Homo sapiens: one gene and its partners. The protein of the gene in region 7 purifies or fractionates together with the protein of the main gene of each other region. This does not show direct contact. Each region holds a gene or a part of one and is shown on either strand. Other genes may lie near its edges.

Evidence for each region.
Region 1: the proteins of PHACTR3 (region 7) and CPVL purify together in Homo sapiens (affinity purification with mass spectrometry; one large-scale study listed by BioGRID and IntAct). This does not show direct contact.
Region 2: the proteins of PHACTR3 (region 7) and GALNT9 purify together in Homo sapiens (affinity purification with mass spectrometry; one large-scale study listed by BioGRID and IntAct). This does not show direct contact.
Region 3: the proteins of PHACTR3 (region 7) and EIF3A purify together in Homo sapiens (affinity purification with mass spectrometry; one large-scale study listed by BioGRID and IntAct). This does not show direct contact.
Region 4: the proteins of PHACTR3 (region 7) and GTF2I purify together in Homo sapiens (affinity purification with mass spectrometry; one large-scale study listed by BioGRID and IntAct). This does not show direct contact.
Region 5: the proteins of PHACTR3 (region 7) and G3BP1 purify together in Homo sapiens (affinity purification with mass spectrometry; one large-scale study listed by BioGRID and IntAct). This does not show direct contact.
Region 6: the proteins of PHACTR3 (region 7) and NSUN2 purify together in Homo sapiens (affinity purification with mass spectrometry; one large-scale study listed by BioGRID and IntAct). This does not show direct contact.

What each region holds. Positions count from the first base shown.
Region 1 is NC_000007.14:29,000,038-29,003,537, reverse strand, and holds part of CPVL (probable serine carboxypeptidase CPVL isoform b precursor), read left to right. Parts: intron 1-2,153; exon of another isoform or gene 2,154-2,209; intron 2,210-2,482; exon of another isoform or gene 2,483-2,569; intron 2,570-3,500. UniProt on the Homo sapiens protein: May be involved in the digestion of phagocytosed particles in the lysosome, participation in an inflammatory protease cascade, and trimming of peptides for antigen presentation.
Region 2 is NC_000012.12:132,260,090-132,263,589, reverse strand, and holds part of GALNT9 (polypeptide N-acetylgalactosaminyltransferase 9), read left to right. Parts: intron 1-964; coding exon 965-1,131; intron 1,132-2,467; coding exon 2,468-2,642; intron 2,643-3,500. UniProt on the Homo sapiens protein: Catalyzes the initial reaction in O-linked oligosaccharide biosynthesis, the transfer of an N-acetyl-D-galactosamine residue to a serine or threonine residue on the protein receptor. Does not glycosylate apomucin or SDC3.
Region 3 is NC_000010.11:119,060,318-119,063,817, reverse strand, and holds part of EIF3A (eukaryotic translation initiation factor 3 subunit A), read left to right. Parts: intron 1-2,489; coding exon 2,490-2,594; intron 2,595-2,706; exon of another isoform or gene 2,707-2,835; intron 2,836-2,973; coding exon 2,974-3,072; intron 3,073-3,500. UniProt on the Homo sapiens protein: RNA-binding component of the eukaryotic translation initiation factor 3 (eIF-3) complex, which is required for several steps in the initiation of protein synthesis.
Region 4 is NC_000007.14:74,748,218-74,751,717, forward strand, and holds part of GTF2I (general transcription factor II-I), read left to right. Parts: intron 1-807; coding exon 808-873; intron 874-1,050; coding exon 1,051-1,234; intron 1,235-3,143; coding exon 3,144-3,199; intron 3,200-3,500. UniProt on the Homo sapiens protein: Interacts with the basal transcription machinery by coordinating the formation of a multiprotein complex at the C-FOS promoter, and linking specific signal responsive activator complexes.
Region 5 is NC_000005.10:151,788,954-151,792,453, forward strand, and holds part of G3BP1 (ras GTPase-activating protein-binding protein 1), read left to right. Parts: intron 1-1,369; coding exon 1,370-1,451; intron 1,452-1,935; coding exon 1,936-2,109; intron 2,110-3,500. UniProt on the Homo sapiens protein: Protein involved in various processes, such as stress granule formation and innate immunity. Plays an essential role in stress granule formation.
Region 6 is NC_000005.10:6,626,545-6,630,044, reverse strand, and holds part of NSUN2 (RNA cytosine C(5)-methyltransferase NSUN2), read left to right. Parts: intron 1-3,500. UniProt on the Homo sapiens protein: RNA cytosine C(5)-methyltransferase that methylates cytosine to 5-methylcytosine (m5C) in various RNAs, such as tRNAs, mRNAs and some long non-coding RNAs (lncRNAs).
Region 7 is NC_000020.11:59,772,040-59,775,539, forward strand, and holds part of PHACTR3 (phosphatase and actin regulator 3), read left to right. Parts: intron 1-1,239; coding exon 1,240-1,414; intron 1,415-2,203; coding exon 2,204-2,451; intron 2,452-3,500.

The DNA of each region.
Region 1 (3,500 bases), on a different chromosome or scaffold from region 7:
TTCATTCTCCTCTGCATTTTCATGTTTCCATTACGGATAATTTTCCTTCTGTCTGAAGAACAGTCTTTCGTACTTCTTTTAGTGCAGGTCTGCTGACAAAAACCTTTTCCAATTTTTTGTTTCCTTGAAAATATCTTTACAAGGTCTTCATTTCTATACAAGTTCTAGGTTGGCAGATATTTTATTTAAGAACTTTCAAGATATTATTTCACTGTCTTCCAGCTTTCATTGTTTCTGTTGAATAGTCAGTTTTCTTGCTGCTTTGAAGGTACTGAAAGTACTGTTTCCTTTTCTGTGACAGCTTTTAAGATTTTCTCTGTCTTTGCTTTTAGCAAAATGCTATTCTCTCTGTGTGTGTGTGTGTGTGTGTGTGTGTGTGTGTGCACATACACATACTATAGTGTAATATACTATTACTAATATACTATTATGTGTACTATGATGTGGTTAGTTTGCTTTGTGTTTATTCTATCTAGGATTCATAGAGCTTCTCAAAACTGGCTTGGTAACTTTTGTCAATTTTGGAAATTTTTCAGTCAGTATCTCTGAATGTTACTATTTGTTTCTTTTGCCCCATTTCTTCCTTATCATTTTATCCTAAAATTCCAGTTAAACATAAGTTAAATGTTTCATGGTTTCATGTCGTCTTCTTCTTCTTTTTTTTTTTTTTTGAATTTTCATACCTTTATTCTCCATGCTTCAGTCTGGATATCCTCTACTGACCTAACTTCCAGTTCATATAGTGTTTCTTCTGCATGCCTAATCTATTGCTAAAACATCGATCGAGTTCTTAATTTCAATGAACAATGAATGAGTAACTTTTTAGTTAAAGAACTTCCATTTGATTCTCTTGTATATATTCTAATTATCTTGTGAATTATTTTTCTATACCTAACATCTTGCATATTTTGTTCACAGTTACTTTAAAATGTGTACCTGGTAACTCTAATATCTGGATCATTTGTGGTCTCTGTTATCTTTTTTTCTCCTTAAATTTTAGTCATTGCTCTTGTTCTTTGTCATGCCTATTAAATTTTATTAAATGTTGAAGAAAATGTACAAAAAATATATGAAGAAAAATGTTATTTTTCTTCCAAAAGGATTTAATTTTTTCTAGAAGGCATACAGAGTAGAGGCATATCACCTTGATAAAGTTTGGGATTGAGACGATTGATTCAGTGCTTGATTTCAAGGTTTGTGAGGACTAACCTGTTTCTGGTTTGTTATTACTTCCAAGGCATTGTCTTTCACGGATCTGATGGAAAGCCTGCAGTGCTTACCAGTGCTGTCCCTCCTTGACAGGCTTGCAACTCCAATTTTTTGTTGTTGTTGTTTCTTTTGGGGTTTTCTTTGTTTTTGTTTTTTGGTCTCTCAAGCACCGTAAGACTAATGAGCTTTTCATTCTCTTATCTGCCGCTTTTGACTTGGCGTCTTGGTCAGAGAAGCTTAAAAATTGGTGAATTTCCCAAAGGGAAAAGCAGCACAAAATGTTAGGCTCACTTCCTTGTGATTCCCTTTTCTCTACGATCATGGCCTCTCTCAAGGCTTGGTTGCTCTCTGATACCTTTAAACAGCTTATTTTCTTTTTAATTCAGCTTCTATTGTTTTCTGTGGAATAAGATTGGTTTGGTACATGCTATTGTGTCACAGTCAGAAGTGGAAGTCCTAAATTACAAACAGTATTGTTGCAACTGATTAAGATGGTGTACATAGGAAGCCCCTTGGGGATGTTGTAAAGGAGCACCAAAAGTTTTAACTGCTCTAGAATATGTACCATTATGATGGCTACATGTGGGTCTCCTGAAGCACCTAGAAGCTCCTTTTCTCATTCTATTCAATAACCATTTGCTACACCAGAGGTGTACAGTGGGAGACCTCAAGAATCGTTTCCCTGAGTGCTGTTGAAGCAACTCCCAGCCTTGATCTCTGCTGTTTTTTCATTCTTTCGAAAGTGACTTATTGCATTCTTTGTTAGGAAGTGTCTGCTAACAAGCTTTGGCTTGTTTTTTATTCTCGTTCCCAAGTACCTTTTCAATATATTTTTATTTGAATGCTATTTACGTTATTTCTACTTATAGTTAGTGTCTGAAAGCAAACTAAAAGATAAGATTTAGTAAATGTGGAATGGCATAAAAGTAGTGAAAAGAACTTACATGTAAATCAGAAACCACAACAAGCAGATTCTCTTGAGGGTATGCATCTTTCTATACTGGAAAGCAGAAACAATAAACCAATCCTACATATTCTGCCTGCCAAACTTGCAGCTCCCATGTGGCTCTTTTCTCTTTCCTGGTGAGTAGCACCACCTTTGCAAATCTGCCCATGTCAGAAGCCTGAAATGGGGAGGATTTGTTGGGGATGGGTAGAGAAAGTCTCACTTAACCTTTATATCGGATTAATCACTGATTTTATTGGTTCCATCTTACTACCCTCTTCTCCTTCCCCTTCTCCCCATCCCTCCCATGAGCCCACATCCTCTCACCTGATTTGGTAGTCTCCTAATTTGCCTCCTTGTACCAGTATGACTCCCTTCCAAATTAGCCTTCTCCTTAGACATTAAGTCATTTTTCTACAATGCAAACATAAGCATGTCACTACCCTACTTAAAACCCTCTAGGATATATCCAGAATAGGCAAGTCTATAGAGACAGAAAGCAGATTAATGGTTGCCAGGGGCTGATGGGGAGAGGGGGAGTGGGAAGTGATTACTGATGTATATGGGTTTCCTTTGGGGTGGTGAAAATATTCTGCAACAAGATAGTGTGAATATACTAAATGCTACCGAATCATACGCTTTAAAATGGTTAAAGTGGTAATTTTATGTTAAGTGTATTTTACCACAGTTGCTTTTAAAGCCCGATAGGATAAGGTCCACTCATCCCAGCATGTCACTTGGGGCATCACATGGTCCCACTAGCGTTTGCCTGTTCATCTGTCTCTTCTGTTTCCCTCTATTCCTGCATGAATGGGACGACATACAGACTGCTGCATGCGCCCGCAGCTTCACGGCCCCTGCATTTCCACACAGAATTTCCTTTGTCTGCGGTGATCCCTCTGCTGCACGTGCCCACAGTTTCATGCCCCTGCATTTCCATGCCTCCTGCATTTCCACGCCTCCTGCATTTCCACACACAGTTTCCTCTGTCTGCGGTGATCCCTCCACCCCCACCCCACCCACCCACCACTCTCCGTCCAGTGATCTCCTTCAAGACCCCCAAGAAGCTTCCCCTGACACATCTACATCAACAAGCCCACTGTGAACTTCCCTCTCTTTTCTGTCATCTAAACAGGCACAACTGGGAAACCTTTACTGGCAGGTCTTTGTTTCTAGTTCCAGGGAGAATTATATTGTTTTCTAAAAAATAAAGTGGAATGAAGCTTTAAAGTGTTTGTATAACCCTGTTGAAATTCATGACACATTTGTGACCCCCTGGAACATCTGGAACACATGAAGTTAGAGGCTGCAGCTCTAGTGTGGAGGCACCCAAAATAGACAGTTC
Region 2 (3,500 bases), on a different chromosome or scaffold from region 7:
TGTGCGCTTGAGGACGGTGAGGGGGGCCACCCCATGGGACAGGACTTGCCACAGGCTTTCTGAGCAGCCCTGCCCCCCTCCCCCTGGGCTCTGGGAGTGCCTCTGCCCACCACCCCAACTCCAAAACCTCTCCTTTCCAACCTGCAGCCGCTCCTGCAGTCCGTCCTAGGACGTACTTCCTTTCTCAGGACTTTCTGTTTTACACATTTTGCAAGTTCATGAAAACTGTGCAATCCAAGCTTTTTCCTCTACAGATGAGTGGAGTGACGTTTTCTTGTCAGAAAGCATTTTTCTGAGTGATGAAATCTCCCTGGCTGAGCACCACAGCCCAGATAAATATGATGGTGGCGCACAGCCCTTGTCCCTTTGAAATTCTCACCAGAGGCTTGGAACCAGCTATGAGCCAGGGCGGGAAGTGGCTGCCTGTGCGGGTGGCTGGCTCCTTGGCTGTGCCCAGCTCCTCGGCTGTGCCCAGCAGCGCCGTCCCCAACGTGCTCCTGAAGCTGATGGCTGGGGTTGGAATCCAAGCACCTGCACTCATGGCCCACAGGGGAGGCTCCTGTCTGTGGAACGGGGACGTTCATCTCCTCTCGGGGTCGCTGTGAGCACGGGGTGGGCACAGGGGCCATGTGTGTGCTGAGTGCTGTGTTACTGTTACTAGTTTCTCTCTGGAACAGCTCTGGCCCCCGTACACCCTTGGCGTCTGGTTGTAGGGTCCAGGCCTTGTCCAGTGACCCTCGAAGGGTGCACCTGGCTCCCGGGGTCCCTCATGCTGCGCCCTGACCACACCCCAAACCGTGTCTCCTGCAGGTGCAGACAGATGAGCTATGGCTCCTGGGGTCCCTCATGCTGCGCCCTGACCGCACCCCAAACCGTGTCTCCTGCAGGTGCAGACAGATGAGCTATGGCTTCCGGGGTCCCTCATGCTGCGCCCTGACCGCACCCCAAACCGTGTTTCCTGCAGGTGCAGACAGATGAGCTACGCCCAGGACCTGCCCCAGGTCTCCGTGGTCTTCATCTTCGTCAATGAGGCGCTGTCGGTCATCCTGCGCTCCGTGCACAGCGTGGTCAACCACACGCCCTCCCAGCTCCTCAAGGAGGTCATCCTGGTGGACGACAACAGTGACAACGGTGAGTGGGCGGGGCCTCGGCACGGTGCTCGCCGGGCGGCTGCCTGTGGCTGGGTTGAGTTGGGGTTGGGTGGAGCCTCCGGGGGCAGAGCGACAGAGGACTGCACCCCATCTGTCCGCAGGGGCTCTAAACCTATGGGGGTCCCTCCTGCCTTCCAGCCTCTGTCATGGCTGCGTACGTGCTGTCCCCAGTGTGTGGCTGCCAGTGCCTCTCTCTGCCTCCATTATGCGGCCTCTCCCATGTGTCTGCATCCTCTCTTCTTCTCATGAGGACCCAGACTAGACACAGAGCTCACCCCAAATCCAGGAGGATTTCATCTCAAGATACTCAACCGGATACATCTACAAAGTCCCTGCTTCCTCTCCTCTCAGGCTCCGGGTGGAGATGAAGTTGGGGTCAGCCACCCCCTTCCACAGAGGCCAGTAGAGCTGAGCTCTCCAGAGTGCCAGTCACGCCTCCCACCTCTCTTGCCCACAGAGGCTCACACCAGAGCTTGGCTGGACAGAGCTCGCAGCTGGAGCCCAAGCCCCATGGTTCCTCAGCGCCACCCTCCTCAGCTTCAGGTCCCCTGAGGGCAGTGCTACTCACACCCTGTAGCACACAGGCTTGAAACCCCAAACAAGGATCTTGCACTGCCCCAGGCCTGTCCCCCATCTGCCCTTCCCAGGCGCAGAGCAGAGAGCCTGCAGCCGTGACACTCCCTCTGGAAATGGAGGAAAACATGGGGAGCCCCTTCCTGACCCCTCGTGGAGGCAGGAGGCTGTGCCATGGGGCTGTGGGGCAAGCTCTGGCCTGCAGCAGTGCCCTAGCCCAGCAGCACCGTCTACACTGGGGTCTGTGTGCAGAGGACTGAATGGCGTGGCTGCCCTCCTGAGCCCTGTCTCGCTGGAGAAGGTGGTGTGTGGGGAGGACCATCCAGTCCAGCTCGGCTACCTGTGTCTTGCCCTTGGCCACAGGGAGCTCCATCAGGACACCCTGCCCCCAGCATGGAAGGCCACGTTTGTGTGTCCACCCATCCATGCATGGACTTGGTTTTTTACAGCTGACTGCAGTCCTGTGTCTCCACAGCATGGGCTGCTGTCTGTCTCTCTGTCTGTCTGTCTGTCTGGTGTGTTTCCTTATTTGCTGTGTCTCCCACTGGAATGTCAGCATCATGAGGCTGGGGTCTCATCTCTCTGTGACCTCCACGCTGAACCACATGTGGTTCAGTGGGTCCTAAGAGAATGTTTACAATACACCCATCCCACACGCGGCACGCAGCATTTCCAGCCTTGGGTCTTGGTGGCCCCGCGCCTGCCAGCACCTGCCAGCGTGCTAAAGTCTTGTCTCTCCTCAGTGGAACTCAAGTTCAATCTGGACCAGTACGTCAACAAGCGGTACCCAGGCCTCGTGAAGATTGTCCGCAACAGCCGGCGGGAAGGACTGATCCGCGCGCGGCTGCAGGGCTGGAAGGCGGCCACCGCCCCAGTCGTCGGCTTCTTTGATGCCCACGTCGAGTTCAACACGGGCTGGTAAGGGCCGGAACAGGCTGGACAGCCAGTCTCAGCGGGTCCCCCTCCACCATCCCCCTCCTAAGCCGCCGTGCGGCTGCAGCCTGGCCGCTGGGTTGGCCCCGGGGCTGGGAGACTCGCCGTAGCCTTCAGGATCTGGGACTGAGAGCCACCACTGAGTCCACCTGTGCGGTTACCTCTGCGGCCTCTCTGTGTCCAGCTCCTGAATGCAAAACCACGGGAGGGCAGGCCCAGCACGCACCCAAGGACATGGCGCTTAGAAGCTCCCAGGCATGTGTATGAGGCTTGGTCTGTGCCCACCTTGCCCCAGGAGAATGTGACCCTGTCCTGACTCCAGCAGGCTCGGGTACCGTGTGTCCCCCGCGGGGTGGGAACCTCAGATCAGGTGGGGTGGGGCTAAGGTGCAGAAGTCCGGCCTCTCAGGCCCTGCTCAGTCACTGGAGATGGCCACGAGTGCCCCCGAGGCCTTAGCCTAGTGCAAGGGGCGTGGGAAGTGAGCTTCTGGGCTGAGGGGGTCACCTTGTGTATGGGGTCCTGGGGCCACCAGCACAAAGCAACCCCTTCTGGGCGGCTCGGAGCAGCAAGACTTCACCTCCTCACCGTTCTGGAGGCCCAGAGCCCGACTCCAAGGTGTGGGCAGGGCCCGACTCCAAGGTGTGGGCAGGGCCGAGTTTCCCCCAGAGGCTCCAGGCCCTTAAGGATCCCTCCCACCTCTCTCAGCTCCTGAGGGCTGCAGCCCCCACCTCCGACCCCCACGCCCTCCCTGTGTCTGTTTCTCCATCCCTGCCTTATGCAAGGACCCTTGTCATTAGAGTTGGGGCAGTCCAGGATGCCCCCAGGCAAACCCCAAAGCCAGCC
Region 3 (3,500 bases), on a different chromosome or scaffold from region 7:
CCACCGTGCCGGCCAGATTTGTGTATCTTTTTAGTGTTTCGCATTGATGGAATCTTCCATTCAGTGGAAATTTGTTGAGTGCCTGTTATGTGCCTAGCAAGTGAAACTGAAGGCAGAAGTTGTATTCTAGGGGAGCTGAGATTCTAGGGATTCTTATCATAATAGTCTGACTTGGTTATTAGAATCACCTCCAGTAGATTACTTTGGGGTAAGAGAAAGAGGGATAAGTACTTGGCTGTATGTTTACCAAAAACGGAATTTAAATCATTAACAGTCCCTAATTCATGAATAGAGCAATAAAGAAATCAAAAAGATAATGGCAGGCTCTCTCAGATATTTTTGAAATGTATTCTGAGGAAACACCTATATTCACTCTGATAAAAGCTAGATAAAAGGCCTAAATTTTCTGCAGTAGTCAATTTAAGAACAAATAACTTTTCTAGATAGTGGCATTTTTCCTTTGTGACATAGTAATGCAGATTCACTTTGTAGCTAACTTTTGCAAAGAGTTCCTGCAGAGCAGCTTTTTTTCTACTTTGTATTCCTCCATGTTTTTTTCTGCTGCCACTGCCCACAGAGTTCAACTTTCTGTTTATGGGGCCGATGTAGGACTCAATGTAATAAAGCAACAGCAGTGTCTTGAGAAAGAAGTTTCATTAGCAAATAAAACATTTGCTAATAAAAAATTTGCTTCTAATTTTTAAAGCTGAAGAAACGTGCCACACTGGAAGGATAATCCACGTCACCTTGTTAAAGGTGATCTTGGCTAGGCGCGGTGGCTCACGTCTAATCCTAGCACTTTGGGAGGCCAAGGCGGGTGGATCACTTCAGGTCAGGAGTTTGAAACGAGCTTGGCCATCGTGGTGAAACCCCGTCTCTACTAAAAATACAAAAAAAAAAAAATTAGCTGGGCATTGTGGTGCATGCGTGTAATCCCAGCTAATCGGGAGGCTGAGGCAGGAGAATCGCTTGAACCCGGGAGGCATAGGTTGCAGTGAGCTGATATCGTGCCACTGCACTCTAGCCTGGGTGACAGAGCAAGACTCCATCTCAAAAAAAAAAAAAAAAAAAAAAGGTGATCTCTTAGACTTAGATTTAATATACTGCAATATGTTGTCCCAGAAGCGAAAGACATTTACAATTGGCTGGAAGTAGAATTTGAGCCACTAAAACTCTGTGAGCAAGTCATTCGGTGATCACTGATGGGTAGCATTGGACCAACAACTAGGGCATCTAGATTAGAGTCCTCATTGTGCCCACAGAGTGTAGACTTCTAGAAGGATACCAGTTAGTGTCAAGTGAATGGATTAGCTGACTGCCAAGAGGCATTTGTCAACTTCTTGAGTTGACCATATATCCAAGGTCAATACCTGAGCGTTAGGCTTCCATAACCAAATTTATGAGACAGAGTGATTCCATTATCTCAGGAAAAGACTCAAACATTCCTAAGAGTGACTTTTAAATCGGAAAGTAAACCAATCATGTATTTTAGTGAGAAATATAATTTAGTAGATTATGGCAGCCTTTCACATTTCCCTATTCGGAAGGGGACTGCATGAAGAATCTAAAATAACTTGATAGGAATGAAATTAGAGCTGGGAATTTTTTTTTTTCTCTTAAAGGCAGATTCTAAGTTAGGGAATTTTATTTGTATGCATATACCACACCTTATTGCAGTAAAGATATATGGATGCTTATAAGGAGGAAGTGTTAGAATGTTGTAGGATTTCAGCCTTGTACCCATTTTACATTAGAGTTAACCTTAGACCTGAGTGCTCCCATGTGTGGGTGCCCTCCTTGCTTGGGGATGCGATCTGCCAATATTTGCCTCAGTTTTGTCACCCACTCTCTATGGGTACACACTTCTGTGCTTTGCTCTATCCCAGCAGTTATTTTGTCCTTGGGTTAACAGTTCCTAAAAAAAATGACATATTCCATGGTAAAATTGAAGTCCATATAAATGGGGTAATATGTGAAATTCTTTTCTCACCGCTATGTTTGTGAGATTTATTCATGTGTTCTATGTAGCTGTTCTTTTTTGAGCATTTTTGTTTATTTTATGAATACACCATATGTGAATTCTCCCCAGTTTGGGGCTATTAGAAATAGTGCTGCCATGATAATTTTTGTGTGATAATTTATATAAAAGTAAAACTGGTATTTTCCTTGTTATTGGTAATAAAATATTCTATTGGCCACAGTAGTTGTCTTTGTGAATATTTAATTGGTTGTAGTTGTGTTTTTTAGAGTTTCATTTCCTTTTTACATACTTGTGGGGCTTTTCACGGTAGGTTAATGTGCATAGTGTGGGGCAAAAGACCCAGCATAGTTGTACTTTGGATTCATTTTTGGTAAATTTAGAGGAGGTTGAGGCTTGATGATTTTTTAAATCATTTTCCAGATTTCCAATGCTATCATTTATACTAAGTTCAGAATTTTAGTTGGAAAATTTCCTTTGGCAGTTACATCTTTTGTTTTGCTTACTGTAGGTCAGATTTAATGTACTACAATATGTTGTCCCAGAAGTGAAAGACCTTTACAATTGGCTTGAAGTAGAATTTAACCCATTAAAACTCTGTGAGCGAGTCACAAAGGTAAGCCTTTGTATTTAAGTTCTGGTTGTTACCACAGAGTTGGCCTTCTTGCAGTTTTGGGTTGTATTCATATTTGTTAAGAGAGAAGTTTTGTCCTATGTGTTGGAATTCAGTGCACATTTCATTGTCTTTTTTCTTTATTTCAAGAGAAAAGATATATCTGATGTGCTCAGCAAACCTTTGGAGGTTAATTAGCAGCATGACTAATTTAGCCATTGCTGCCAGTCACCTTCAAACAAGTATCAGTAGCTTCATGATACATTTTGTATTTCTTTGCATTGGATGATGTTTTTGTATATTAAAAAAAAAAGAGTTTTAGATGTTTTAGTATCTCTTATGTAGAAAGTGTGATTCTCTTTCAATTTAATGGATTTTATAGGTTCTAAATTGGGTTAGGGAACAACCTGAAAAGGAACCGGAATTGCAGCAGTATGTGCCACAACTGCAAAACAACACCATCCTCCGCCTTCTGCAGCAGGTAAAAATAAAAAAATAAAAAAAGTTTTGTGATGTTATGTGCTCATCATGAAACTAAAAACTGGAAAAATCTAGAACTGCCTAGGAAGTGAGAACCTCCCCAAGTTCTGCCCCTGGCAAAAATTAGTCTATTTATTAATTTGAAAATCAGAATTATTATATTTACATATTTTGTAACGGACGCTTTTGTTTTTTGGCTGAACACTGTCTTTGGGCATTTTTCCTTGTTAGTAATGTAGGGCTACCTTATTCCATTTAAGGTACTGTGGTGTATTTATTCAGACTCTCTTGATGAAAACCTGTATTCCTAGATTTTTTTTTTCCCTGTTAGAAATCTTGTAGCATTGAGCATCTTTCATACATGTATCTTTGCATACTTCTATTACTTTCTGTGGCATAAGAAGTGGAATTAGTCATAGGGTTTATGGA
Region 4 (3,500 bases), on a different chromosome or scaffold from region 7:
TATATCAAAGGTTAAAGGAATAGCCCGTAGAGCCAGGCTGCCTGAGTTCAGATCTGAGTTCAAATCCGATGCCACTTGGGCAGGCGAATACACCCTGCCTCAGTTTCCCTTTGTGCAAAATGGTAATAACATTACTTTCTTTCTCATGAGGTTATGGTGAGGATTATAAATACTGTCATTTAAAGTACTTAGAACCATACCTCGCATGTAGTAGAGACTATAATTTGTGGGGGCATTTTGGGGGTTTTCATTTGTTTTTTCTTTATTTTAGCATTTGTTCACTTATTTGTAGTCAACATAAAAGCAATGTACTAAAACAGTTTGCTTATGTATCAGGATGGGAGTAGTTGTCAAGTCATATCATGGTAAAAGATTATGCATTTTTTATTTCTTCTTAAAGATGCACAAATAAGGCCAGGCGCAGTGGCTCACGCCTGTAATCCCAACACTTTGGGAGGCCGAGGTGGGCGGATCACCTGAGGTTGGGAGTTCGAGACCAGCCTGACCAACATGGAGAAACCCCGTGTCTACCAAAAATACAAAATTAGCCAGGCATGGTGGCGCATGCCTGTAATCCCAGCTACTCAGGAGGCTGAGGCAGGAGAACTGCTTGAACTCAGGAGGTGGAGGTTGCAGTGAGCAGAGATCGCACCATTGCCCTCCAGCCTGGGTAACAAGAGCGAAACTCTGTCTCAACAAAAAAAAAATAAGATGCACAAATAAGATGAAACACTCCTGCCTGTGAATGTGTATTGATAAGTACTGTGATAAGTATTGCAATTTAACTCTCTTATGTTTTATATGCAGAGGCCTGGAATGCCAAAATCACGGACCTAAAACAGAAAGTTGAAAATCTCTTCAATGAGAAATGTGGTAAGTCTATTTTGAAACCTTCTTACTGCCACGCAGGGTGCCTTCATGGGAGTAGGAGGGAGCAGAGTGGGATACTGAGCGTTGGAGTATCCCTGTCATTGGCAACGTGTGGGTTTTTCGGGATTGAATGGCGTCATTTCGCCCATGTTCTGTTTCGTGTACGCGGCTGTTTTGCAGGGGAAGCTCTTGGCCTTAAACAAGCTGTGAAGGTGCCGTTCGCGTTATTTGAGTCTTTCCCGGAAGACTTTTATGTGGAAGGCTTACCTGAGGGTGTGCCATTCCGAAGACCATCGACTTTTGGCATTCCGAGGCTGGAGAAGATACTCAGAAACAAAGCCAAAATTAAGTTCATCATTAAAAAGTAAGGAAACTGGATGAAGTGGGATTAGCATGAGTTGATTGTGTTTGACACTGGGAGATGGGTATGTGGGTTTGTGTTTGTGGCAGGGCTGAATTAGCTCTGGAGTCAGAAAAACTGCTTTTTAAGCTGCACTCTTGTATATGTTTAAAACTTCTGGCCAGGTGCGATGGCTCACACCTGTAATCCCAGCACTTTGGGAGGCCAAAGCAGGTGGATTACCTGAGGTCAGAAGTTCAAGACCAACCTGGCCAACATGATGAAACCCATCTCTACTAAAAGTACAAAAATTAGCTGGGCGTGGTGGCACGTGCCTGTAATCCCAGCTACTTGGGAGACTGAGGCAGGAGAATCACTTGAACCCAGCAGGCAGAGGTTGCAATGAGCCAAGATCGTGCCACTGCACTCCAGCCTGGGCAGCAAGAGCAAAACTCCATCTCAAAAACAAAAAAAAAAAAAAAAAAGAAGAAGAAATTTTCCTTATGCTGCTGGTAGAAGGGAAGGAGGACTCCACCATACTAGAGAGATAACGACTTTTGGTTGCTAAATCTACACAGCTATGTTGTTACTATTTGATGCTGCTGGAATCTGAGCAGCTGTTTAGTTTTTCAAGTCCTTTTATTTCTCCAACTTAATAGAATATTTTCAATTTCTCCTGTTTGCTTGAACATCTGTGGATTAGGCTAACATAATTGAAATAGATAGGAATGGGCCGGGTGCGGCCATAAATCCCAGCACTGTGGGAGGCTAAGGCAGGCAGATCACTTGAGGTCAGGAGTTCGAGACCAGCCTGGCCAACATGGTGAAGCCCCATCTCTACTTAAAATACAAAAAAAAAAAAAAAAAATAGCCAGGGGTGGTAGCTGGCACCTATAATCTCAGCTACTCAGGGAGGCTGAGACAGGAGAATCACTTGAACCCAGGAGGCGGAGGAGATCGTGCCATTGCACTCCAGCCTGGATGACAGAGTAAGACTCTGTCTCAAAAAAAATTAAAAAAAGAAATAAGAATAATTGGAATTTTATAGTACATGCTAATGCACATGAATTATTTGAAATCAATTGAAATGAATTTTAGGTTTCATTTGCTTGGTGTCAGGCTTAATTTTGAGTCACCCAGGGATGCTCTCAAGCAAAGCTGGCCACTTTTTTTTTTTTTTTTTTTTTTTTTTTTGTGAGACAGAATCTCGCTCTGTACCCAAGACTGGAGTGCAGTGGTGTGTGATATCGGCTTACTGCAAATTCCGCCTCCTGGGTTCAAGCGATTCTCCTGCCTCAGCCTCCAAAGTAGCTGGGATTACAGGCATGTGCCACCATGCCCAGCTAATTTTTGTATTTTTAGTAGAGAAGGGGTTTCACCATGTTGGTCAGGCTAGTCTCAAACCCCTGACCTCATGATCCGCCTGCCTCGGCCTCCCAAAGTGCTGGGATTACAGGCGTGAGCCACCGCGCCCGGCCAATGGCCACCTTTTATGCTTTTGGCCAGGTCTGCAGAGGTTTGGCAGCCTCTAAGCCCTCTGCTTCTGCTTCCGGAGTGAGAGCCTCAAGTGCTCCTGTTTTCACAGCCCATCTTGTGTTTCCATGCTGCGTTTGTGGGGCGTTTTCTCTTTGCATCCTCAATTCTGGCGCTGATTCTTTTCAGGATACATTCTAACCTTGGAAAGAAGATGCCAATAAAACCAGTGTAGGGGAAGGGCAGCCAATGAGAGGCAGCAATGGATGTTAAATTTACAATTGTGGTTTGTCTTTTTGGCTGTGGTTCTTTAGATAAGCATGTGATTTCTGTTCTTCATGACTAAGAATTGAATTTAGACTTTACAGAGTTACTGGTTTGTAAATCTTTGAGTTGTTTAAATTTTAATGTTAGAGTTTTACTGTTTGATCAGCACATTTTTTTTCTCTTTTGTCTATAGGCCCGAAATGTTTGAGACGGCGATTAAGGAGAGCACCTCCTCTAAGAGCCCTCCCAGTGAGTGTATTTTCTGTATTTTCATTGCTATAGAACACACGCTCTTAGGCATGCATTGTGCAGCTGTGGTTTACAAACATTGTTTAAAGAATAGCCATTGAGGCCAGGCATGGTGGTTCACGCCTGTAATCCCAGCACTTTGGGAGGCTGAGGTGGGTGGATCACCTGAGGTCAGGAGTTTGAGACCAGCCTGGCCAACACGGCAAAACCCTGTCTCTACTAAAAATATAAAAAATTAGCCAGGCGTGGTGGCAGGCGCCTATAATCCCAGCTACTCAGGAGGCTGAGACAGCAGAATCAC
Region 5 (3,500 bases), on a different chromosome or scaffold from region 7:
TTTGGTGGAGACGGTTTCCCTGTGTTGGTCAGGCTGGTCTCGAACTTCCGACTTCAGGTGATCCGCCCACCTTGGCCTCCCAAAGTGTTGGGATTACAGGCGTGAGCCACCGTGCCCAGCCTTTTTTTGTATTTTTATATTTGGTTAATTTCTTTCTACCCCATAGAATAAAACTGACATAAAACATAACAAAAAGAAAAAAGCATAGGCCAGGCATGGTGGCTTATGCCTGTAATTCTAGCACTTTGAGAGGCTGAGGTGGGCGGATCACTTGAGGTCAGGAGTTCAAGACCAGCCTGGCCAATATGGCAAAGCCTTCTCTCTATACTAAAAATACAAAAAAAGGCGGAGGTTGCAGTGAGCTAAGATTGCGCCATGGCACTCCAGCCTGAGCAACAGCACAAGACTCTGTCTTAAAAAAAAAAATGTATTTATCTGGAAGACAAATGTCAAATCTTAATAGTGGTTATCCCTGGATTAGAGCATTTTGGTGTGTTGCTTTCCTGGTAGAATATTGTTTTAATGAAAATGGATCAAAGGAGGACATAGATGGGTGAAAACCATGAGGAATTGACTTTGACATTCTTAATTGCATCAGCAGAAATAGTTAAAAAGTACTTCTAAAACCACTTGCATGAACTAGGTGTTTAAGGGGAACCGCTCACGCTTATTCTCAGATACATTAATAAAAGGACACTTGAAGTCTATGAAGAAGATAGCTGTTCCAGCCTTACCGCACATTTTCTTCCTGAGTGAAAATAGGAACTTATGTATTGGTGGCCATCTTGACATGAAACTACAAGATCCTTCCCAACAGTATCATCCTACACTGAAACCTGGAACCAAATCCATTCCCATTCAGCAAATGTTGATCAAGTGGCATGTAGGGGATACAGAGATGATTGCATACAAAGATGAAAAAGAAAACGTTTCTGCCAGGGCCAGGCGCGGTGACTCACACCTACAATTCCAGCACTTTGGGAGGCCAAGGCAGGTAGAATTGCTTGAGTTTGAGTTCGAGACCAGCCTGGGCAACATAGTTGACCTTATCTCTACTTAAATAAAAATAATCAGCCAGGCATGGTGGCATGTGACTGTAGTTCCAGCTACTTTGGGAAGCTGAGGTGCCATTGCACTCCAGCCTGGTCAGCAAGAGCAAAAAAAAAAAAAAAAAAAATGTGCACATCAAAGATCATAGCCCCGGCACATCGAAGCTGCAATGAGCTATGATTGCATCACTGCACTCCAGCCTGGGTGACAGAATGAGACCCCGTTGCAAAAAAAAAAAAAAAAGTTTGCCAGTATCAGACGTGAAAAATAAACTTAAGATACTTGAAGATGACAAGTAAATCATCTTCCCATTTTACAGATTTTATGGAAAGAACTCTTCTTATGTCCATGGGGGATTGGATTCAAATGGAAAGCCAGCAGATGCAGTCTACGGACAGAAAGTAAGCATTTCAAGCCTTATTTAGGCTGTTAAGCAGGTAGAAAATAACTCATAAAATTGAAGTGGATCATACTTAATAGATTTGCTGATAAAGATCCAGTTTCTCAACTTTTTAGTAAAAGTTGATGTGTTTTATTACTATTTGATTAATATATTTGTTGAAATACTTATGTGATGTCAGATTTGTTAATTTTGTATGATATATTCTAAAGCTTTTGTGTGTTGGAAGATAATTGGCTTTAGCATGGGGATCATCTTTTCTAAACTTTGAAAAGTGTGTTAATTCAGGACAGTTATTTAAAAAACTCAAGCGCGGTCACTGGGAATAGAGTATACAAAGAAACATCAAAATTCAGTCTGCATATCCTGTAATTTAAATATACACATTCTCTTTGTGTTGTGTTGGAAGGTTTTTTTTAGTTGGAGGTTATTTAAATTTTAAGGCATTCTCAGTTGATTATTATTATTATTATTATTTTTTTAAGGAAATCCACAGGAAAGTGATGTCACAAAACTTCACCAACTGCCACACCAAGATTCGCCATGTTGATGCTCATGCCACGCTAAATGATGGTGTGGTAGTCCAGGTGATGGGGCTTCTCTCTAACAACAACCAGGCTTTGAGGAGATTCATGCAAACGTTTGTCCTTGCTCCTGAGGTATGTGTAGGAATGATTATTTTGTAGTGATCCAATACATGAAAAAAGAAACAATGAACTGTTGTGCATATCTTTAAAAACACTTGAAATTTCAGACTTACAGAAAACTTGGAATAATAGTACACTAACTCCTATATACTCCTTACCTAGAGCAGCTGTCACCACTTGCCCACATGTGTATAATTCTTTCTCTAAAATAGTTTAGTGGGCATTTCCTAAGAATAATTCTCTTCCATTCTGTAGTACAGTTATCAAATTCAGGAAATGTTGATGCAATATAATCTATAATCCATTTTTAAAATTTGGAAATTATCTCAATAATGTCTTAACAGTAATTTTTTTTCCTTGTCCAACATGGAATCTATAATTACACATTGCATTTAGCTATCATGTCTCTAGTCTCTTCTAATCTGCACTTGTTCCTTAATCTTTTGTTTTTTTTTATTGCATTGACATTTTTGAAGAGCACACTTTTTTTGTAGGATGCTTTATGGGTGTCATTCAGTGCTTCACATTAGGCATATTATGTCATTTAGTTGTGATATGAATTTTGATTAGTTAGGTTTTGCCACTGTAAAGTTAAATATCTTTTCTCTCTCTCTCTTTTTTTTTGAGACGGAGTCTCACTGTATCGTCCAGGCTGGAGTGCAGTGGCTCCATCTCTGCCCACTGCAACCTCCGCCTCCTGGTTTCAGGCTGTCCTCCTGACTCAGCCTCCCGAGTAGCTGGGACTATAGGCGTGTGCTACCGTACTCGGCTGATTTTAGTATTTTTAGTAGTGATGGGGTTTCACCATATTCGTCAGGCTGGTCTCTAACTCCTGACCTCAAGTGATCTGCCTGCCTCAGCCTCCGAAAGTGGGATTACAGGTGTGAGCCACCATGCCCAGCCTTATTTTTTCTCTTTTTGATTTGTAAATGAAGGATGGGAGATTCTCTATCTTTTTATCTTTCTTGAACACTTATGGCAAAATATTTTCCAGGTTCATCTTGCACTGTTCCTGGCCCAGTCCCTATTCTTGAATCAGCTGTTCCTTCAAGGAGGCCTGGTTCTTTTTAGTTATACTTATGAAAGGACGACAAGTTTATGTTGAATGATTGCATTTGTGTTTTCTTCCGGATTGGTCTAGACTGAACAAGGTTAGGAATCCTGTCTGCTTAAGCATGTATATAGAAATGGCATAGTAAGAAATTGTTGATTAAATCATTGTTTTCTCTAGCATTAATCTTAAGTTTTCTTTTTAGGATAGCAAACCTGAAACGCCTAAAATCTTTTAACCTTTGAATATGAGATAACTTTTTGTCTGTGCAAAATTACATGAAGCCAATTATAGTCATAATTTTTAGAGGAAGGCTTAGATTAAAATGTAAAGATGTGGTAGACTTCTAAAT
Region 6 (3,500 bases), on a different chromosome or scaffold from region 7:
TGTTGTACTTGAAGTAGAGGTCTGATACTGTAGTAGTCCATTTTCACACTGTTATAAGGACATACCTGAGTAATGTATAGATAAAGGAAATAGGCTTAATTGACTCACATTTCCACATCGCCGGGGAGGCCTCAGGAAGCTTAAAATCATGGCGGAAGATCTCTCTGCACAGGGTGGCAGGAGAGAGAATGAGTGCTGAGCAAAGGAAGAAGCCCCTAATAAACCATCAGATCTCCCCCTGAGAACGAACTCACTGTTGTGAGAACAACATGAGGGAAACGGCCCGGGGATTTAATTATCTCCACCTCGTCCTGCCCTTGACACGTGGGGAATATTACAATTCAAGGTGAAATTGGGGTGGGAACACAGAGCCAAACCATCTAAAATATTTTAAGAAGACAGGATTACGATTCTCCTCGGGCATGTTTGTATTTTTAGCAGTGATGCATGTATGTGCTGCTTCACACAATCACCTGGAAACATTTGTTTCTAAAACCTTGTGTTTAGAAGCGCAGAGACGGGATAAGAAATGCTTTTAAGATGAAGAAGTTCCTGTCCAGGAGGAACGTTTCAGCATGTGTCTATAGGGAAGAGGTGTGCTCTTAAGGCACCTCCATGTGGGCATTTTCTTCTGCAGGCTCCAACAAACTAGGAGAAACCATACGATGTCAATAAGGCTTGCTAGTTTTTTATTATTCTCTGCAAACTACAGTTACACTTGGATTTGATCAGCCCTTTTAACATTTCATAGCTGCTTTTCCACCTTGTTTAACAATGTGTCTGGGTATATGACAAGGTAATTACCAAACTCTTAGAATCTGCAGGTTGTCTGTAGTTGAAGAATGAAGGTGAATTGCTCTCTGCCAACAGCCAGCTATGTTTTTGTTTGCTTTAATTTTCTGAACACACAGCTGAAGGGTATGAACAAAACATTGTAGATCTGGGTTTCTAATATTTGGCTTTTTCCATTATCAATGATGGTTTCTCTATATTTTATTTTGAGACAGGGTCTCACTCTGTCACCCAGGCTGGAGTGCAGTGATGTCATGACGGTTCACTGCAGCCTTGACCTCCTAGGCTCAAGTGATCCTCCCACCTCAGCCTCCTGAGTAGCTCGGACTACAGGTGCATGCCACCACGCCTGGCTAATTTTTTTTATTTTTTTGTAGAGATGGAGTTTCACCTTGTTGCCCAGGCTGGTCTTGCATTCCAGGGCTCAAGCAATCTTCCTGCCTTGGTTTCCCAAAGTGCTGGGATTACAGACATGAGCCACCATTCCTGGCCAATGCCAGTTTCTTGGCAGCTGTATTCTCTAAACATTTATTTATTCAAATTCATCTGTCAGTTTTAGGGTACTAAATCTCTCAGCAAGCAAGTAAAGCAGAAGCTTTCCAGGACTTCTGGTAATTTTCTGTATTGCTCAAGATGCAGGAATAGATCATGTAATATTCTTCCCAATCCTCTGGTACATAGTGAAATATAATTTAGGAAAACGTTTTTTGAAATTACATTTTCTAGAAGGAAAGTTATGTATAGGACCATAGCTTGGGCCAGTTTCATTTTTTTCTTACTTTCCATAGACTCAGAACAATGAGAAATTATCCTAAAGCATTCTTATAGAAGCATTGTTTTGACAACCAATTGTTCAGAGTGCACCTTATTATCATTCTATTTATGTGCTGTTTACTTATATTTTTTTTTGAGACAAGGTCTCTGTTGCCCAGGTTGGAGTGCAGTGGCATGATCTCAGCTCACTGCAACCTCCACCTCCTGGGCTCAGGTGATCCTCCCACCTCAGCGTCCCAGGTAGCTGGGATTACATGCCCCCATCACCATACCCAGCTATTTTTTCTATTTTTTGTACAGTTGGGGTTTTGCCATGTTGGACAGGCTAGTCTTGAACTCCTGACCTCAAGTGATCCGCCCACCTTGGTCTCCCAAAGTGCTGGTGTTACAGGCATGAGCCACTGCACCTCGCCTGTTACGTGCTTTTTAATGTCTAGATTGAGGATGGTTTGTCATAGATGTTGTATATATTTACAGAGTCCTTACCACTTGAGAATTTTTAATATGCAAAGATGACAGTGGTCCTTTTAACTTATCCTCTAAAAAGCCCAAATAGGATTTTTTCTTAAAAGACACAAGCTAAATTTGAAGTAAGTAACTAAAAATTAAATATACCTCTCATTTTGTTTGATGTTAAAATCTACAAAGATTTAATAAACATTTTTTGGTTCATAAAAAGATGATGCTGTTCCTAAAGCTGTATAAGAAACATAATTTAAAAACATTTCTTGTAGAAACAGGGCCTCGCTTTGTTGCCCAGGCTGTTCTCTGTACCCAGAGGAAATAAACATTTATCTGTTAGTTTCTGTTTGTATTTAAATATTTCAGAGTTCCTAAATGTTTCTTTACATGAGATCAACAGCCTTCACAATTATAAATACTGTAGAATTTTAATCTTGTAATAGTACGTTTACATTTTGACTATCAGAAATTTGACGAAAAAGACATATAAGGCTATATTTGTTCAAAGTATATCTAGACTGCTTATCTATATTTGAAAATGAAAATTCAGCTCTTTACAATAAGTCTAAATGGCATGTGGTGTTCATATTGATGTCTTAGTGATTTGGTAAGGCAATAACTTACATGATCGTACTAGCTTTGAGACAGACAAGTTCAGGAAGACCAGATACTATATGAGCTGGCATTTGGCTGTTTGCAAGTAGAGGTTACAGTGGCACAGCAGATATTTGCCCAATACTATAGCAAATGCCAAATTTGCATGTAACCTACTATTTCGCCTCTAATGAGTCCAAAAGATTATTTAAAACAATTCTTTTTAAAATTGCCTTATGAATATGATTTTCTTTTGGCTTTATATTTTTGAACACATTAAATGTCGAGGAGGGAACTGGGCTATATGAGATAGAATCAAAGCGCTGGGGACCTTTGGAGGGTGGCCGTGGACAGATTCAGCCAGTTTCGTCTTCATTATTTGGTAGAAAATGCTTTTCAGGTATATTTTGTAATATTTTGACTTGAGCAGTGTCGGGCTTTTAAGTCCTGAGTTTGTTTCCATCAAAAAATCAGAGTTTAAAAGCAGTCAAATGTGTTTGTGTTTTCCAGACATTCCAGTTTTATTTTCATGGTTTTCACTCTAGCTACAATTTGACGCATGGAAACATTGTGAGCCTGCATTGTTAAATTGAGTGTATTACTGCATCTCAGGTTTAGTGAGAATTGCTGAAACTACACTAAGATTTATGGCCGTGTGACGTGGTACACTTGGTTTGGCATTGGATTGAGCATGGTGCTGCATGACATCAGTGTGCTCATTTGTACGGTGCAGATGCCTGTATAGGTGCAGGCCAAGTTTCAAAGCACATCCTGGGTGGGGTACAGTGGCTCATGCCTGTAATCCCAACACTTTGGGAGACTGATGCGGCCGGATCACTCGAGGCCAGGAGTTCGAGACCAAGCTGGCCAACACGGCA
Region 7 (3,500 bases):
AAAGGAGCTGATGGTCTCATTTTACAGGCAAGTAGGCTAAGCCTTTGAGAGCTTCAGTGACTTGCCCAGAGTCTTGCATACTGGGAAATGGCAGATCAAGACCAGAGGCCAAATCTGCAGAAGACAAAGCCCATGCTCTCTGCTCTTCCGGGCACCTGACACCCTGCTGGCCCGGAGCACATGCAGGAGACTGTCATTGATGGAAGGAGGGGGTGTCCCACTCATTTAGACTTGAATGAGCAAAGCCTGTTTAGAATCATCTTCAAAGTCATTTCATGTACACAAGTGTTTATTGCCCGTGTTTTAAGTGCCAGGCCTGGGGAAACTGTAGGAAGGAAGGTGGACACAGGCCTGCCCAGGAGCAAGAAACAGACTGGGCAGCGTGATTCACTCCAAGTAAGAGGAAAAGTGTCAGGGCAGGCTCAGGTCCCAGGGGACAGGAGACGAGGGATCTGATCATGGCCTCTCTAAGGAAATGGTATTCTAGCAGAGGAGCGGGGAAGCATTTCAGGCAGAAAGAACAGCCCATGCAAAGACTCAGGTTGGACGGAGTGTGGTGCCTTCAAAGACGGGAGAGATCTTCACATGCTGGAGTGAAGAGAGTGAGGTGGAGATGCAGCTAGGGAGCCGAGTGGGGCCACCCCCAGGGGCCTTGAGACTGGGCCATGAGTTCGAATCATGTCCTAAGGAAGATGGGAGAGTGATCCAATTCACCTTCTGGGGTGATCCTCCTGGCAGAGATACAGGGAGAGGGTTGGAGCCCAGAAATTTATTCCTTACTGTTCTGGGGGCTGGAAGTGCAAGCCCAAGGTGCTGGAACAGATGCTGTGGGGAGGGCAGAGCGGACCATGGTGCTCATCCAGGCTGAAGGGTGGCTGCACAGATTCTTCCGGGTTTCCCAAGAACAAGAAGCAGCTTCAGGAAGCTGAATTCATAGCAGAGAAGCAGGAAGGAGGCTTTTCTAAGCCCAGCGCCCTGCAGGGAGGATGCTGGTGCTGGTGTCTGCAAGGCTTGGCCCCTAACAGGGTTTGCCCTACAGATGGAGCAGAACTGGACAGAGATGCACCCTGGCCTCTAGCTTTGGGAGCAGGGATCCCGGTCCAGCATCTTGGCATTAGTTGGGGCCCCTCCTGGAGGTGCAGGGGAGCGTCCTTTCCGCTCATGGTCCCCAGTCTCAGCAAAACCCTTGGTCCCAGCTCCTGAAGACCTATGTTCTTGCTGCTTCCTCCCACACCCCAGGCCAAGCCACACTCTTCCAAGCCTCCAGCATGAAGAGTGCCGACCCTTCCCTCCGGGGCCAGCTCTCCACACCCACGGGGTCTCCGCATCTCACCACGGTCCACCGGCCTCTTCCCCCAAGCCGCGTCATTGAGGAGCTGCACAGGGCGCTGGCCACGAAGCACCGCCAGGACAGGTGAGGCCCTGCCCCATGAGGGAGACCTGTGCTGCCAGAATCCCTGCCTGGCCAGCCTCAGGCTGTGCAGCTCATGCCACGCCCAGGGCCTTGGCTGGGTGTCCCGTTCTACAGTCACTTTCTGAACAAGGAAGTCACATTTTCATTTTGCACCTCGCTCTGCAGATTGCATAGCTGATCTTGGTTCCCACATTCTGGGACGGGGTGCACAGTGAATGTGCACTATGGGAACCTGGCCACAAAGTCCTGTGCGTGAGCCCCTCAGGACCCAGGGTGGGGTGGGAGCTTTGCAGGAGAGACTGACTTAGAGAAAAGTGGCCGTTCCACTTTGTCCCAGGACACTGAGGGCTTCATAGTTGTCACTGGGCAAGAGTGTAAGGCAGCCTGTGCCTGCAGCTTACTCTTATTTTGGATCACATGTGTCTCATGGACTGTGAAAGATTAGAGGTAAAATAGGTAATAGGAGACAGTATGGGTTGGAGGAATATTAGACAAACAAAATGTCCTTCTCAGTTTTTGTGAAGTCCTCGCCCTGAACATTGATTGCATGTATTTTGGCAGGTTTTATTACTTGCATGTTCTGTGCTTTTCAAAACAGCATGTTGTAAACAGCCATTTGCCTTGAACTCAAATCCTCATGCTCCTTCTGGTGTGTCCAGGATAAAAACCAAGAGGTCACATGCATTTTGGGGCTGCCTCTGTGATATTCATTATAAGCTCCAAAGTCAATCGTGCTGGGTTTCTGGGTGAAGGGGGTGACCTATAACCTGAACCATCTTTCTGGTTTAGTTTTCAAGGAAGAGAAAGTAAAGGGTCTCCAAAGAAGCGGCTGGATGTCCGTCTGTCGAGAACGTCCAGCGTGGAGCGGGGCAAGGAGAGGGAGGAGGCTTGGAGCTTTGACGGGGCATTGGAGAACAAGCGAACTGCCGCTAAGGAATCTGAGGAGAACAAGGAGAACCTGATCATAAATTCTGAACTCAAAGACGACTTGCTTTTGTATCAGGACGAGGAGGCGCTGAACGACTCCATTATTTCTGGTGAGGAAAGGATGGCCCATTAAGTGTGGGGATCTCGGCCAGAGGTCTAGTGTCACCAGGGGGTCGAGGACAGAGCTCGTGCCTGGGGGAGGAACAGGTCGAGGGGCTGCACCTGGGGAGAAACAAGAGGGGGGCTGTGTCCTCTGGAAATGAGCTTCTCCTGAAACAAGCTGGGGTGGGGGTGCACAGCCAGGCTTAGAGCAAGGAACTAGAAAATACCCCGGTGAAATTGTTTTGAGAGTTGCATATTAGTTTTCATGTGTATGTGAAAAAAAAAAACAACATAAAAGTGGTGAAGCAAGTGACTTAGAGAATGCCACCCCTGAGGATGCTGTGGCGAACAGTATATAGTTGGTGTACAGATGCTCAGTGTACAGAAGTTATAGCAAAAACAAAAACAAAAAAAAACTGTAACAAGTAAAGCAGGACGAGATGGAAGCAGGGGGAGAGGGAGGAAGAGAGATTGCTCTATTGATCTCAAATGGCCGTCTCAGAAGTGCTGTGGATGGGACAGGCAGCATACGCTTGTTTGGGAGCAGATGCTCACAGGGTCCTTGGAAGCCAGCTCCGTATTTGTCCTCATGGTGCGTTCTCCCATGAGGTAATTGCTCCATCCTACCCTTGAGGACTCCGGGGCTCGGGACGATAGAGGCCTGCAGACCACCCTGTGATGAAGGGAGAAGGAGGCTCAGGCCAGGAGGAGGAAGTGCTGAGGGGGTTTCCCTCCCAGCTGGTACTGGCTGTGCGGGGCCCTCTGATTAGTCCCAGGAAGGTCCAGGGCGGCCGTGGTGTTTGGCCTGCAAGGGAAGGATCAGGAAGCGTCCGTTGCTGTTCTTCCTGGAAGCATCTCATGGTGACTGTTGCGGGCATGGGCAAAGCTCAGGCCACGTCTCCCTGGGTGTCTGTGGGGAGCAGGAAAGGGCATCAGATGTCGGTGCTGACCCTGGCTGGTACTGAAGGCATGCGGTGGGTACTGTGATGGGTGGATAGACCGGCAGCCCAGGGCTCCATAGCCTCCCGCTTCCTGCTGCTTTGGAGCCTTTCCACCG